Linked DNA regions of Homo sapiens: region 1 is linked to region 2. Evidence: fine-mapped QTL for protein levels in blood plasma. A gene starts in region 2. The other region holds a variant in brackets. All regions are shown on one strand. Distances are between the middles of the regions. Region 1 overlaps ST3GAL6 (ST3 beta-galactoside alpha-2,3-sialyltransferase 6). Region 2 holds the start of ST3GAL6 (ST3 beta-galactoside alpha-2,3-sialyltransferase 6).

Evidence for each region. A credible set is the group of variants that fine-mapping cannot tell apart. PIP is the posterior inclusion probability: the model's chance that the variant is causal. Sun 2018 read protein levels with aptamers (SomaScan).
Region 1: its variant is the best candidate, but not a certain one, in a credible set for the plasma level of the ST3GAL6 protein (Sun 2018, PIP 0.86).

The regions. Positions count from the first base shown.
Region 1 is chr3:98,786,125-98,794,561 of GRCh38, forward strand. ST3GAL6 (ST3 beta-galactoside alpha-2,3-sialyltransferase 6) reads left to right here. Exons shown (of 10, transcript NM_001323368.2): 7 at 1,912-2,098; 8 at 2,202-2,339; 9 at 5,717-5,869; 10 at 7,551-8,437. The coding sequence ends at 7,637. Among named protein-coding and RNA genes, the nearest start is that of ST3GAL6, 27 kb to the left of the region's middle. The variant G/A (reference allele first, on the strand shown) is at 4,737.
Region 2 is chr3:98,759,604-98,767,603 of GRCh38, forward strand. ST3GAL6 (ST3 beta-galactoside alpha-2,3-sialyltransferase 6) reads left to right here and starts at 3,737. Exons shown (of 10, transcript NM_001323368.2): 1 at 3,737-3,836.

The DNA.
Region 1 (8,437 bases), 27 kb after region 2:
TTGTCGAGTAGGCAGTTGGATAAACAGGTTAAAATCTTGATGGTGTGTGGCCTATAAGCTGTATTTAAACCATGGACTGGGTGAGATTTCCCAAGGAGAGACTGAGAGAGAGAGAAGAGAGTGAGGACTGAGCCTCAGAGAACTCAAAATTTAGAGGTTGAGCAAAGAAAAAGGAATGTGTAAAAGAGATGAAGAGGATCCACCAGTGAGGTAAGAAGAAAATCGGGAGAAGGTGATCACAGAAGCCAAGAGAGCAAAGTGTTCCAGGACAGAAGGAGTGACCAACTGTATCCCAGTGCTGGTGAGAGGTCATGCAAGATAAGGACAGAGTGGTGACCATTGGACTGGTGACCTGAGGCTCATTGACACTCCCAATAAAAGCAGGCTTAGAGGCGTGATGTGGCAAGAAGCCCGGCTGGACTAGGTCGAAGAGGGAATGCAGAGAATGTACACCTGAATGTACAGATGAAGATGTAGAGAAACCAATGTAGTCCAGGGATTTTGCTTCAAAGAGGAGTTGAGAAATCAGATGGCAGTTAGAGATGGTTATGCAATCAGGGTTTTTTTTTTGTTTGTTTTCTTCTTTTGAAAAGATTGGAGGCACTATAGTACATTGGTTAACTGGTGGAAATGAGAAAGAGATTGGGGTGGTAAAAGAGAGGGGAAGGGGGTTCAGAACACAAGTGTGGTTAATGTTTCATAATGGAAAGGAGAGCCAGGATTGTGGTTACAACTACCAAGAGTCCCTCTGATGTAGTGAGGGGAAAATACGGACCTTTCTATCTCTATTTTTTTAGTGAAAGGTCAAGATAAGGTCATCATCTGGGATAAGTGTGTGTGTGTGTGTGTGTGTGTGTGTGTTAGGAGTAGCTATGAATAGTTTAAAGAATGGCAAAGTTAGCATACTGAGGCAATACATTAGGATGGTTTGGCAGCTTTGGGGGTTTTGTGGGGTTACAAGCTGCCTAGGGTTTCTGCATGGTGAGGTCACCTTATTTTCTGTTTACTATCCATTTTGAGGAAGCTGTGATAATTTACCTACAAAACAATTTTGAAGCAATCACAGGTTTCTCTACCCATAATTGTCTAAATCTGATAATTTAGAGCCACAGGAAACCCTTGCAGGAAAATATCATGGGTACAACATTTTGAAAGTCATCTCAAGTGTTAATAAGTCTGTTCGTCTTATATTACGTAGAGTCAGTAGCAAAGGGCAAAACAGTATTTATCTCTTTGGGGACACTGTTTTGGAAACAAAGCATTTCTTTTTTTATAGCATGGCTTCATAATGTGTGCATAAATAGTGCATGTCCAACCTTGGCTTTCAGCATACACAAACCCAACAGTAGATCCTTTGTGGTTCTTTAGTTTACTCTAGCAATAGACATTCATTTGGTTGTGCTTGAATATAATATAGCAGATTTATATTGTTAACCTTATTTCAGAGTACAACAATTTTGATGGGTCTTTAAACCAACTTAAATGTGATTCTTCTTACCTGTCAGTCACACACATCCATGTGCTACATGACTGTGTGGCTTTGAGCAAGTAATTTTCTCTCCAGGGGTTTGTCCTCCAAGTTCTCTTTCAACTCTGGTATCCTGTGGCTCTGTGTTCCCACTTTTTTAAATTTAGTCTTCAGTTCCCCTGGAGGTAAGACTGAATTATCATTGGCTCCACAATTAATTTTCAAATACAAATGAACATTTCTGCCTTTGATCAACCAACTATTTCATGAAAAGGAATGATCTCCTTGGCCATTATGTGTGAAAGATTGATCTATTGCTTTGTGGCTTCAGAGCACAGGATAAAAGGCTGATGTTTGTCCAACTCTGAAACCTCTGAGAACTGTGATGGGAATGGCAGATACTGCACTTGGTCTACATATCTTGTATGTTTTACTATCCACAGAATGAATAATGGTCCTGTTTTAGGACATGAAGAAGAAGTTGGGAGAAGGACAACCTTCCGACTTTTTTATCCAGAATCTGTTTTTTCAGATCCTATTCACAATGACCCTAATACGACAGTGATTCTCACTGCTTTTAAGCCACATGATTTAAGGTGGCTGTTGGAATTGTTGATGGGTGACAAAATAGTAAGTAGGCAAAATTGTTCTGCCTTCAGATTACCTTTAGTGCTTTTTTTCCTTAAAAAACAGACAGCCACACTGTTCTATTCTCTATATTTTTTACTTTCAGAACACTAATGGTTTTTGGAAGAAACCAGCCTTAAACCTGATTTATAAACCTTATCAAATCCGAATATTAGATCCTTTCATTATCAGAACAGCAGCTTATGAACTGCTTCATTTTCCAAAAGTGTTTCCCAAAAATCAGGTATGTATTTATCTCTGCATGGTTTCAAACTACAGATCTGGCTGAGGTAGGATAGAGGGTCCTGGGAACTCTCAGAAACTGTATGAGAACCACAGCTCATGAGATGATTTCTGAGGGCCATCTCTGAGTTAGTAAAAGTAGTTATCTATGGATATTATCTTTATGTTTTTCATTTATGTTGCAAGGAAATGTAATTTTAAGTTGGGTTTTTTTCCTGCCCTTGTAGGGCCTTCCTGGGGTCTCTTTGTGCATGCCGAAACAATTTATCTTTCATAACTCTGTCTTCAGTGTTCTGCAGTGAGGAGAGTCTGACTGGGTGGGCTGACGGGCAGGCTTGTGCTCAGAGTAGCTGGCCTGGCTTCAGGCCAAGTGCATGGCTTTGCAGGCTAAAAAGAAGTGTCTGAGATGCTCTGATAAAAATATCACAGGAAAGCCAGAGGAAAGGTGAGGAAGGACAATAAAGTAGTCCAGAAACATTTCTGTGGTCAGAGGAAATGTTGGCATTAAATTCTCAAGAAATGGTAGCTACAGCAATATTGAAAGAGTTCTTGAAACTTCAAAATGAAATCTCATTGACTTTCACTCCTGTTTGCCTTCTTTCCCTAGAAAACAATACTCTAGACCCATACAGTGGCAGAGATATTTTTTACTGGAAGCTTGAGTAACTGTATAACATGACACCTTGGTTGAAATGAGTTTTTCACCCCTTTTTAAAGTAGGGAAAAATCCAAAGAAATAAATATACATCATGTATTTTCATGATGTATATTTAGCATGATAAGAATTGTGATTAAGAAATTCAAAAGTGTTATATGCTGAAAACAAATGTTAGTGTTGCACACTGAAATAAAGGAATATTAAAAATCAAAAAGGAAGTCACCAGTCTATTCTCTTCCCTCTACAACCCATGTAACCTCTCAAGCTTTTCTACCTTTTATGTGCTTCCAGACTATTTGCTATGCATTCATAAACACATAATCTTTTTGTTTGTTCAGTATAATTATGATTATACCATAGGTATTGTTGTTATTTTCTTTTTTCTCTTTATTTAACTCTTCCCCTATTTATAGACACTCAGATATATCCAACATTTTCTTCTCTTTAAATAATATAGCAGTACATGTGTTTATAGGGGTTTTCTGCCCATTTGTCGGATTTCTGTAGGATGGACTTCTGGAAGTGGAATGCTCAAGTCAAAAAGCATACATGTTTTAAATTTAAACCTGACTTCCTAGTAATTTTGAGGGTAAAGGACAGCTTCTGAATGTGTGTTTTGTGAGTTTTCACTTCCTATATTCCTAAGTGAAGTATGATCAGGTATATCTCTTGCTTCTTCATTTTAGGTAATATCTTTAATTCCAAAAGCACAGGAAGACCCTGAGCATACTTAGTGATGACATTAGAACTAGCTGTAGCTACATCAAAGTCCCAGTAGGACATGGTGTCCCAGAAATCAAATGCTGTATTTCAAGAGAAGTCAGCCATGTCAGATGCTGTCCAGAGGTTGAATGTAAATAATAAACCCTGGTTTTAGAAACGTGGAGGTCATATTGGTGATATATATTAACAAGAAAGAAGGAAAAAGCCTGCTTGAATTGGGTTGAAGAGAACCTGGGACATGAGCAAGCAGCAACAAATCTTTAGTGGACTTTTTGCTAGAACAAGGATCGTAGAAATGAAGCAATAGTTGGAAGATGATATAGGATCGAAGAAGCGTGTTTTATTTTTGGTCTGTGTATATGCTGAAGGGAATGGTTCAGCAGAAAGAAACACTGATGATGAGGGGAGAAAGTAGTTAAGTACAGAAGTAAAATTGTTGAGAAGTGATATGGGATAAAATATACACTAGTGAAAAGTTGCTGAAGTTACATCTCATCCATTATAAGAGGAATAAGCACTGCAAATGTGAGTAAAGATACAGGTAAGATGGTAGATTTGGAGTTGGGATGATGAAGCCACTCTTTTGACTGCTTTTGTTTCCTTAAAAAAATAAAGATTAACTAGTCAAATTAGGAAGAAGACTAGGGCTGTTGCAGGATACAAAGTTATAAATTCTCATCTTGGAGAGTAGGAATGGAAATTTACTAGTCAAACGTAACTGGATTGCTAGGCAATACTTACTGCCTGTTTGAGAGTTGGGTCATAAATTCAACATTCAACCAGGTAAACGTATTTTTCTCTTGCCCTATTCTGTTGCTGGGGTGTGGGTACAGGGTGACTGCAGTGCTTATTCCTCTTATAAGAGTTTGTCAGGTGGTAATATAGGTTCTGTGGGTGATGGCTGCAGAAGAGCTGGTCTATATAAAGGAATGGTTATAAAGACGGATGAAGGACTCTTAAGATGTGAAGAAAGGAAGTAGAAGACATGAAAAGGGGCAAGGAGAAGGAAAAAGCAAT[G/A]GGATCAATGAGGCTGAATGACTCCTAGGTTACAATGGTACATAGGATAAAGAAAATTTTATGCTGAAGGCAGTTAATGCTTTCGGACAAGTTTGCCTCCTGGAATTGATTTGGTTGTGCTTCTTCGATTTTTTTTTCTTTTCCTCAAAATCATAGTAAGTCATATGTAATTTCAATGGGAACTATAAGAAACACTTTATTGAAAGTGTTATGTAAAAAGCTTAAGATGTATCTTGTTTTTCGCTTTGAAGGCCATCTCAGTGAGAATTACAATTTCTGAAAGCCAAGACCCTCTTGTCAAATATCTATCACACTGGTTTTCAAGATATATGTAAGATAAGGAAAGAGGATGCTTGGTTTTTCTTTCTAAAAGTATAATGGTGCAGCTGAGATTGTGATATTGCTATGTATGCATTTGGAATATTTATTTTCTAGTCAGATACTGTTACAATTTATCATTGAAGTACTAGATTAGCCTTTCCCTAGAGTTAGTTTAAATGGTGAGTATAAAATATAGCTATTCGAAGGCGAATTTATATGAAGTCTTTTATCATGATTCCATCCGTTTGTGAATGAAGCTGTCCTTATATTTCATACACGTGTTCAAAATTCCCAGGCTTTGCTTTTGCCATAAGGAGCCTGACTCATCATGTTTTTGTGTTTTTTAAAACAATACAGCAACATTCTCTTCCTTAAGCCTCACAGTATTCTTTCATTGGATAGTTGTCCTCTGGGCTAATACCACAGCTATATTTTATTTTAAAGACTTCCTAAGATTTCAATCACAGTTTATATATTTTTTAGAGTTAAGGTATATATGCATACTCTTTGGGGCTTGAGCCTTATAATGAGAGTTTAGTTATTTCTCTCCTTATTAAATGTTTAGAAATCCCTGTTTTATATGATTCAGCCAACCAAATATGCTTTGGTAACAAGTAGCTCCTTTTGCTTAAAAAAGTTTTTTTCATCCCCTCCCCCAGAAACCTAAACACCCAACAACAGGAATTATTGCCATCACATTGGCGTTTTACATATGTCACGAAGTTCACCTAGCTGGTTTTAAATACAACTTTTCTGACCTCAAGAGTCCTTTGCACTACTATGGGAATGCCACCATGTCTTTGATGAATAAGGTAATATACTGTACTTTAGGTAATATACATATGCTTTGGACTAATCTTTGAGGGATGGAAAGCCCATATTTTCTCTTCTCACACTCATTTTACTGAGGGACCACGTTTTGAAGGGTTGAGGGCTTGATGGTGATTACAGGGCTACCAAGGGCTGTAACTAGAACTCATGTCCAGGATCATTTTACTACAGCATGAAATCCCAATTTATGGGCCTCATGGTTATTGCCAAGTGTCATCAAACCCATATAAGTACAGAACCTTACTTTAGATATTATATTTGCACTATTGAAATTCAGGCAACCTGCTGTGTTTGAGATATTACAAATTCACCTTGCATTGCTGTGCTTAATTATTCTCATTTGTTTTTAAGTAGACAAGATGGTGTAGAATATTTTAACCCTACAAGAGAATCTTCATGATCAAAAAGGTTACCAACTTTCATACTGGATCACACTTCTCTTGAATAGGGATTAATAGTGAGGATTTGTATTTTATTTTTTTTAACAATTTTAGTTTAAATTTTTTTTTTTTTTTTGAGAGTCTCACTCTGTCACCCAGGCTGGAGTGCACTGGCATGATCTCGGCTTACTGCAACCTGCACCCCGCAGGTTGAAGTGATTCTCCTGCTTCAGTCTCCCTAGTTTCTGGGATAACAGGCGCCCGCCACCACGACCGGCTAATTTTTTTTTTTTTTTTTTGTATTTTTGTAGAGATGAGTTTTTGCCATGTTGGCCAGGCTGGTCTCGAACTCCTGGCCTCATGTGATCTGCCCGCCTTAGCCTCCCAGAGTGCTGGGATTACAGGCATGGGCCACTGTGCCTGGCTAAGGATTTGTAATTTACTTGACTGGGAAGGAGTTTCCTAGTTTTGTAATTCTAACTTAAATTAGTAGTGCATCACAAGTGATGGGATTAAAATGTTATCTGTATACTTTTAATATTGAAATATTACTTGATAAAAAGTATATGGATATATCTCATGAAATCAGTCCCCTTGAATCACCCCACTATATAAGCTGAGAAAGTGGTATAAATCAGGTTAGATTTAGTATTGTCTTTTGTCCCTCACCCCCACCCTCTGTCCCCACCAGGTAAGACAAGCACTTAAGTATTTCAAGAATGAGGTACCCCAACAGACTTTGGATTAGGCTGATTTCTCCTCCGCCCTAAACTTTCCTGTAGCACTTGTGGTATTTCAAGTGTCATCTAAAGAGCAGAATATTAAAACAACTTCCTCAGGAAGAAAACTTGGATATTCATGTATAGAACAGTAATTTTTAACACATCTTAAACTGAACCAGGCATTATAATAGTTTATCTCCAGGCTGATTTTGTTTGTTTTTAAACTGATTTCTAGGGGCTTCTTCCATTAAAGTGAACAACTCAAAATTTTGGTCTCCAGATTTGTATTGTACCATGATTCGGTCTACCAGGGTTTGATATGAAGGAGTCTTACTTATGTGAGAGTTGAAATGGAAAGAGTGGGCTGTAGGGAAAGCTTTTGCACAAGAACCAGCAAGGAAAGTAATTTAAAAGGCTATCAAAAGTTAAAAGTACATGCAACTCGTTACTTAACATTCGAGTTCTTTATTCGGATTTTTTTAGATATAAAGTACTCCATTGGTGCTGCTAATACTTTGAGATTGGGAAAGAATGATGGTAATTGTATTTTTCTTCTTTAGAACGCGTATCACAATGTGACTGCAGAGCAGCTCTTTTTGAAGGACATTATAGAAAAAAACCTCGTAATCAACTTGACTCAAGATTGACTCTACAGACTCAGAAGATGATGCTAACAGTGTTAGTTTTATTTTTGTACTGCAATTTTTAGTTTAAAATATGTTGGATGCACTCGTCAAATAATTATGTATACTGTCTGTTGCTGCCTGGTGATTCATAACCACCAGCTTAATTTCTGTGAATACTGTATATTTAACTTATGAAAACCAAGAAATGTAAAGATAACAGGAAAATAAGTTTTGATTGCATTGTTTTTAAAATAAGCTAGTTTTCTGAGGTGTTTTCACACGTCTTTTTATAGTTACTTCATCTTAGATTTTTGAAGGGATATGACTTCCTACTAAGGATTTAGTTTACCACAACAATTCTGACTACAATAAGACATTTTGAGGAGGATATTTGGCTACTGTAAACATGGCTGGTGGAAAATCACGATTGTGGCTTGATGTGGCAAGCCGAAACCACTTGGCTCTGGAAATCTAAGTTCATACTGGTTTAATTAAGCTCTCTCCTGACAACCCCCAGAATTAAATGAACCATGATTGTGAAGAGTAATTTGGTACAATGAAGGCAGTGTTTGTTTTTAAGTTAAAGGAAATGGGCTAAACATAAAGTTCTTATTAGATAAGTAAATAACTAAAGAAAGAATACAATTACTAAACTCTGATGGCTTTGTATTATTTTAAAGAAATGAAGTTTAACTTTATACAGTGAAGCTAAGCTAGGCAAGCTCAAGAAGGAAAAAAAAATCTTGAACATTATTTTTTTTTGCCTGACTTACTTATTCATTAAATTTTGAAGGTTTTCCACTTGAAGTAAATTAGGAAAG
Region 2 (8,000 bases):
AGTTTTTTTTTTTTAAACTTTTCAAAATCCTGGCTGCCTCTTCTGTAGTATGATACGTAAGTCCTCACTGTGTCTAAATGCCCCCAACTCTTGCGGTCTTCCCAGCTCTAAGATCTGTAATTCTTGGGTTCAAGTTGTAAATTGCAATAATTGGAAATGTTGTAAATATGTGGCCAATGATTCAGTTGGCACTTAGGTGAATCAGAAGGAGATGCAAGATAAGGTGTGTGTCCTATAGCTGTAATGTGAATGGAGGAATCCTACATATTTTCCCTCAAAAATACTGGTAGTATCATACTGACACTAATAGTAGATGGAAGGATGAGACTGAAAATAATACAGGAAAGACAGTGTCCAGGGAATTAAAAACAAAAAACAAAAAACAAAAAACCCCACAAACATTCCCTAGAGTGGTGAGGGAAATTTTTCTCAAAGCCACTTATTTTCAAAGGGAATCTGACTAGTTTCTTCAGAGAAACTTCTGTTGATTGAAAACTTTCAAAGGTCAAGCCCTAAAGACTCTTAAAAGATGTAGCATAAAACTTAGAATGAGCTGCCAGTTCCCCTCAAAAACTGTTTTCTGTGAAGCCCTGATCTTCTCGGCTGGATACAATTCCTTTTTTCTCTGACCTTCTCCAGCAGTGCTTCTCAAACACACAGATCACATGGGGTTTGCCAAAATCCACTTGACTCAGTGGATCAAAGGTTGGAGCTGAGACTCTGCAGCTCTACCAACTTCCCAGGTGATGCCAGTACTGCTGGTCCATGGACCACACTTTGAATAACAGAGGTGTAAAATAGTTTGCTTTAATTCTCGTAGCAGATAATGGAAATAATTTTGAAACAGTGTAACAGCTCCTTCACCAGACTGTGAGCTCTATTCTCCATATCCTAAAGTCGAGTACGTACACATTATGAAATTCTTGATATTAATAGATAAGAGATTCTTACCTCGGTCAGTGATTTGTATTATTCAATAGCAGTAATAATTTGAACTGGTATAGGTAGGGCTTTTTTTTAAACTGAGATAAGCACCAGCATGCAATATAACTGAGATAGGCACCACAATGCAATATAAAGTTTTCATATAAAGTTAAACGTGTTTACCATATGGCCCATGAAAACGTATATCCACCCAAGAAGTTGCACTTGAATGTTTAATGCAGTTTTATTTACAATAACCAAAAATTGCAAAGAAACCAAATGTGTATTGCCTGATAAATAACTTGTGAACTGATAAATTAATTGTGGTATGACCATACAATGGGATGCTATTTAGCAACAAAAAGGAATGAACTCCTGGTACAAGCAACAACTTGAGCATTTTTTTAAAAAGTATTATGTTAATTGACAGAAGTCAGAAATAAGATATATATTATATGATTCAATTTATATGAAATTTTAGAAAAGCAAAACTATAGTGATAGCAGATCAGGCTGCTAGGGGCCAGGAAGTGGGAAGAAGGAAGTGACTACAAAGAGGAACAAAGGAACTTTTGAGGTTGATGACAATGTTTAGAATCATGACTTCAGTGGTTGTTACCTGATACACTTAAAAGTGGCGAATTTTAGTGTATAAAAATTTTATCCCCAGCTACTCAGGAGGCTGAGGCAGGAGGATTACTTGAGCCCAGAAGTTAGAGACCAGGCTGGACAGTATAGTGAGACCCTGTCTCAAAAAAAGGAAAAAAATGAATAAAGGCAATTTTAAAAATTACACACAGGCTGGGCATGGTGGCTGATGCCTGTAATCCCAGCACTTTGGGAGGCCGAGGTGGGTGGATCACTTGAGGTTAGGAGTTCGAGACCAGCCTGGCCAACATGGCAAAACCCCATCTCTATTAAAAATACAAAGAATTAGCCAGGCATGGTGGCACGTGCCTATAGTCCCAGCTACTTGGGAGGCTGAAGCAGGAGAAATTGCTTGAACCCGGGTGGTGGAGGTTGCAGTGAGCCAAGATTGCATCACTACACTTCAGCCTGGGCAACAGAGCAAGACTCCATCTCAAAAAAAAAAAAAAAAAGTAGCCACAGTCATCAACCTGTTAACAACATCTAATGCTTCTTGGAAGCTGATATCTTATTAGCAGGATGTTAATAAGAGAATACAGGGACAATTTTTACTTTAAGAGAATAAATGGGCATGGAAAGAAAATGTGAATAAACAGTAGGAACAAAAGAAGTTCCCTAAAAGCTTACTTGTGTACTTGCAATGGACCTGAGTCTGAAGAGAGAGCTCTTGAAAACAGGAACTCCAGTTCTTCTATTTTTAGCATCCCATATAGTTGCTATTAGCTGAATGATTTTAGTGTGTCCTGTTGTGCTATTAAAGAAGAAAATTCTGCTGAGAAGTCATTTCTCTCCTTTTTATATTCTTTGCAGTGAGCACACCCCACTTTCAGGAGAGGATCTGGTCATCTGCTTTGGCAGAAGGCTTATCTTTAATTAAGTGAAAAGATCTGTCTACATGTGCTAAGGACAGTGAAAGCACTGGTGAAAGCACTGGCTTTGTTGAAAAGCTGAAAGAGAAGGGTGTTTGTGCATATGCATGTCGGAACCAGCTTCATATCATTGTATTAGCAGAAGAGTTGGGGGAGGAGAGGGAAAGAAAGTTAATTATACGTGTTCCCTTTCTGCAATGCAGAAAGAAAATAGTTATATTCTTAGAAATCAGTCAAAATGTATACAGCTGATCTAATTTGTTGACACTACACAACTCAATATTTTTGGAGGGGGGCATAAATCAGATTTTCTGTTAATTTACTCAGCAATGTCAGAGTTTTTTTCTTAACTTGTATTAAATAGCATTAGTTTATAACTTCAGATTAAATTTAGCCTTTTCGTTGTAATATTGTATGTTTAAAAAATCTATATGTGCTGTTTTTTATTTCTTTAATTATGGTCTATTGAGAATTTCGTCATCCTTCTAGCAGAAAATCCCATCAACCAGACTACTGATTCCTTAGGATTTCTCTCTTTAATTATGAGATTAATAGCTTTTCATATTATAATGTTTCTAAAGAAGTGTGTTTGATAAATGCATAATTTAATGTGTATCATCCCCTTGTTTTATTTTTAAAAGATATTATTAAATGATTATTTAACAGTTCATACTCTTAAAAATATGGTTATTATAGTTTTCTATAAGCCACAATTTCAAAGTGTGGGCTTTGAAATCAGATCTCAGTTTGAATTCTGGCCAGTGCTCTGGGTATTAAACATATCTAGCATGGGGATGAAAATATCCGTGATTTCATCCTTATGTGAAAAAGGGCTTAGTACTGTGCTGGCCATTTAGTAAGTGGTTAATAAACTGTGCTATCATTTACATGATCATCGCTGCCAGAGGTTGTAGATCCTTGGGATATGAATGAAGCTGATCTCACGCATTTGGACTACCTAATTAGTAATAAGGACCAAACCTAAAAGAGAGGTAGTAAATGAATTGAGGAGGACTGAGGCCTTTCCATTCATCACTGTGGAGTCCTGTACATTAAGGCTCAGGTCATATGGAGATGGCTGGGTCTGTGAGGCTTAGGCTTAGGGGACCTATGAGGCTGGACCAAAAAAAATCTAGACATTAATGCATGGCTAGAGTTGGAGGTTCTGTTGTAGATTTGCTCATGTAGGCATGTGACTGCAGATTATAATCACAAATTGAGTAATAAGTACAAAGAGGAAGGAAGGCAGGATGTGAAATCTGTTGGCCATGTTCCACACAGTCTGGAGTGTATGTCAGTGTGAGCTGAAGACCAGCAGAGACTAGGATGGATGACGGCCTGTCCAGGGGCTGAATGGACACAGGTGTCAGCAGGGCCACCTGGTAAAGGTATGGAGGTGAGCCATGAACAAGGTTACCTGCTTAAGGGGAAGGTTGTGGCTTAAATCTAGATGCTGCTGAGATATTAGACATTAGGTGCCCACAGGCTGTGTGGAGGTAGAAGGGGGATGTGCTTCTCTTATTTGCACAAAGATGTGAGTTACTGAGGAGTATTATTGAACAGCAGCATGTTGGGTTTGAGAAGAGACCTAGTAGTAGAAAGAGTAGTATGTCTGCCACTGAGGAAGCAGGGAACAGAAGGGTGCCTCACCCCAGGGCAGATGGGGACATGGTTTAGGATCCTAGTGACTAAAAAAAAAAAAAAAAAAATGGAAGTTTGGCTGCAGAGCTGCTAGGGTGACTAGGAAAGAGAAGAATGCAGACGTTGGAAAAGTGTGGTATAGTTTAAGCACCCAGCAGCAGGAACCCAGGTCCAGTGGATGAGATGACCAGGATCACTACTGGATCCACAGGAACCTGACCCAACTGTTAAGCTGCTAGTCGAGGGCTCCTCAGACTCTCTTTCTGTGGGTCAGAATCAGTCCCAGTGCCTGGGGTGGCTGGGCTTGCAGATGGGCATTAGGAAGCACCTGCTTCCAGACTGAAACAGAACTGGGGATGGAGGAGACAGGGAGGTGAGGTTTGTGTGTGCTCAGCATCCGGAATAGAGAACGCCAAGGGTCTTTCTTCCTTGGTGTTGCATATTGACTGAGATACCCACCGGGTTTTTCTATTAGGTTGGTTTTAAATGACAAAAACCACAATTACTTTTGCACTAACCTAATGCTTGATAAGTAGAACAATGTTTCTAGAATTATTGCTGAACATGCTTTTTTCTAGCTGGTTGGAAAAGCAAGCTCCCTTTGGTTTGAGAAAGCATTAGGGGAGTCTAAAAAAAAACCTGACATTTTTTTCAAGTGTTTCTCCGTAGAGTTTGTTTTTATAAACAATGCTAGCATGGTTGGGAGGAGCAGAACTGGGAACAGGGTTGGGAGTAACAGGCTTTTATTTCAGCTGAGTTTGAATCAAAAGTATTATAAGCTTTACCTCCATTTCATCAATTACTAGAATTGATATTGCTTAAGGAGCTTGCAGGATTGCTTAAGTTGGAGAAATGTTCAGTAATGTTTAGTCTGGTAGCAAAAGGAGGGGCCTGTGCTCACTTGTGAAAGCTCACATCTAGGGGGAGGTAGTATAACGCATGGCCTGTGGCCTGATAGAGACAGATTTGAGTCCTCGTTCTGCTACTTGTCAGCTCAACAAAGTCGTTGCTTCTCCCAGAGTTTTGGTTTCCTCCTCTACAAAATAGGAATTGTAAGTCTACCACTTCTTTTGCAAGGTGGTTGTCAGGATGTCATGAGGTAATACACCAAAAGCAATTATCACATGCCTTGGCACAGGCTAAGCACTCATACATCTTAATGCTTCTAATCAGTTGTTATTCATTGAGCATTTACCACGTGCTAGGCATTTAGGGTAAAAAAAAATAATACAAAGCATCTAGTTATGGGATCTGTATCTGTTACAGTCTCTGTATTTCAGAAATTCTTCCATGGTTCTATTGTATTTCTTAGAGCAGTGATTCTCAAAATTTTAGTGTGCATAAGAATCAAATTGGTGGATGCTGTTTAAATGCACATTCCTGAGCCCCAGAGATTCAGATTAAGTAGAGGCTCAGGAGTGTGCATGTTAACAAGTCCCCGCCTGGTGCAGACTCTTGAGCCTGCCCTAGAGTCACCTCCTTTCACCAATATCTGAATTTACCCTTCTAGACTTCAAGATACCAATGGAACACCATTAGGAATTTTCAGATTAGAATTATCTCTTTTAGATTTGCCTTGTGCTTTTTATCTTGAGAGACAGGATAACACCAGGAATGGAACTCTGAGAAAGAAATGATTGAACCATAAATCTATTTCTGTCTTCCTTAAACTGTGTGACCTCAGACAACTCAACCTTATAAACCTTCAGTTTTCCTCATTCATCAAGAAGACAACACCTGCACACCCATCTAACAAGCTTATTTTGAGCCTTAAATGGAGGGATGGACATATAAAAGATTTTTTATGAACTTTGATGCTCCACACAAAATATGCTTTTACTATTAAAGCAAAGTGAAACATTTGTCAAGATTGAGTTTAATTTGGCATATATAGGTTACTTATACATTGGGTTACATATCTTAGTTGGAGAATATGTGAACATTTGTCCTCTGCCAGTGAGTCCTTCTTTCCCTTGCCATCCTCTACCCACATTTTTGTAAAGGATGTTTTAGGGACCCTGATTTTAGGAGCATCTGCAGCCACAAAGCTGGCATTGGTCCTGTTTAATGTCAAGATCTTGAAAACTCTTTTTTTTGGTAATCAAAGCTATATTAAAGGGCCTTATGTCTTTTTAAAAGCAGATAACCTCTTAAATTCTGTTTTTTTCTTTGAATGTTTTTGCTCAAAGCAAAATGCCCTTCCACTTATACAATATAATTAGATAATTGGTTTATTTGTGGAAGCTTTTTCCTGTGAGCAAGCAGAGGAACCATGTTTATCACAAGGATATCCTGGCTGGCCCGTGTCCTTTGCAACTTGAATACTGAAGCTGTGAATTGTACATGAAATACGATAGTGCCTTAACTTCCTAAATGTTTTTCAGGTGGCGTGTGCAGTAGCTGTTCAAGAGTGGGTTCGTTTTATTGTTTGAAAACAGAGCATTCTCTCACACTTCTTTGTTTTTAATTAGACCACATATTAGTGAATGAAAAACAACAAAACAATAACACAAGTCTCGCTTACCCATACCTCCGTGTTCTGTAGAATAATACATAAATTGCCCAAAGAGTATGTTTTGGAGAATACATAGGAATTTTGACTTGTAAATACTGACTTCTTTCCCTAGACCTTCATATACTGTCTTAGATGTAAATACATTAAAAAATTTTGCTGATACTGGTAAGTTTTATCCTTGTTGGATCTTTGCATAAATGTCATTCTTTTTTTTTTTTTTTTTTTTTTTTTTTTTTTTGGGAAAGGGAGTCTCACTCTGTCGCCCAGGCTGGAGTGCAGTGGCGTGATCTCGGCTCACTGCAACCTCTGCCTCTTGGGTTCAAGCAATTCTCTGCCTTAGCCTCCTGAATGGGTGGGATTGCAGGTGCCTGCCATCACGCCCGGCTAATTTTTTTGCATTTTTAGTAGAGACGGTGTTTCACCATCTTGGCCAGGTTGGTATTGAACTCCTGACCTCGTGATCCACCTGCCTCAGCCTCCCAAAGTGCTGGGATTACAGGCATGAGCCACTGCGCCCAGCCAAATGAAGTTATTCTTAGTGGAGCCTTAAATGTTTGATTTGAGCATTTAATAAGATGTTCCTCACTATTTTGGCCCATGGTAAACTGCCTTCCAGGACCATCTAATAACCCAAAGAGGTAGATGGTGTGTTCTCACTTGTAAACACATGAGGACCCTCAGGTCAGAAGAGGTAGACTGATTTACCTTAGGGTCCCCACACCATATGTAGAGTTAGGCTGTGAATCTTGTCTTCTGATTTCCAACCAGTGTTGACTCTTCACAGGGATTATGTATACCTAATTAGAAGTATGTGTGAACTAAAGTTTGCTCATTAACTTGCTTATTTATTTGCTTTCTCCTGACATAGTTTTCATTTCTAACTAATTTAGAATAGTGGCATGTGGGGGTGGTGACTGCATTAATAGCAGCAAGAACCAACAGCTGACAGCAAGGGAGGAGTGAAAAGCAACTCAACCAGATAATCATGCCAGTTTAGGACTGCTTAGCAAATAGCCCCACACACCCATTAGCTGCAGAGGGTTTCAACTGTAAGAAAGCCCAGAACAATTATATTTGTTGAGCTGACCCCATATTATCAAGAAAAGTTTAAATTATGTTTAGTATATTCTACTTATGAAGGCAAAGGGAGTGGTTTATTTTAAGATTTCCATTTGAACATATTTACCATTAAAAAGAAGGCAATGCCATATTATTTGGAAATTTATTCAACCAGACTCCCAGGTTCTATACTGCATCGCCATGATTGAGGTTAATAGGCATGGATAGGAGTGAAAGGAGTGGCACATGCAGTTGTTTAGACGAACTAGAAACTTGATAAGGGAGACAGAGAAGCAGTGTACCTGTTTAAAGTCACAGGCGTTGAAATAGGTCTATTATGGAACC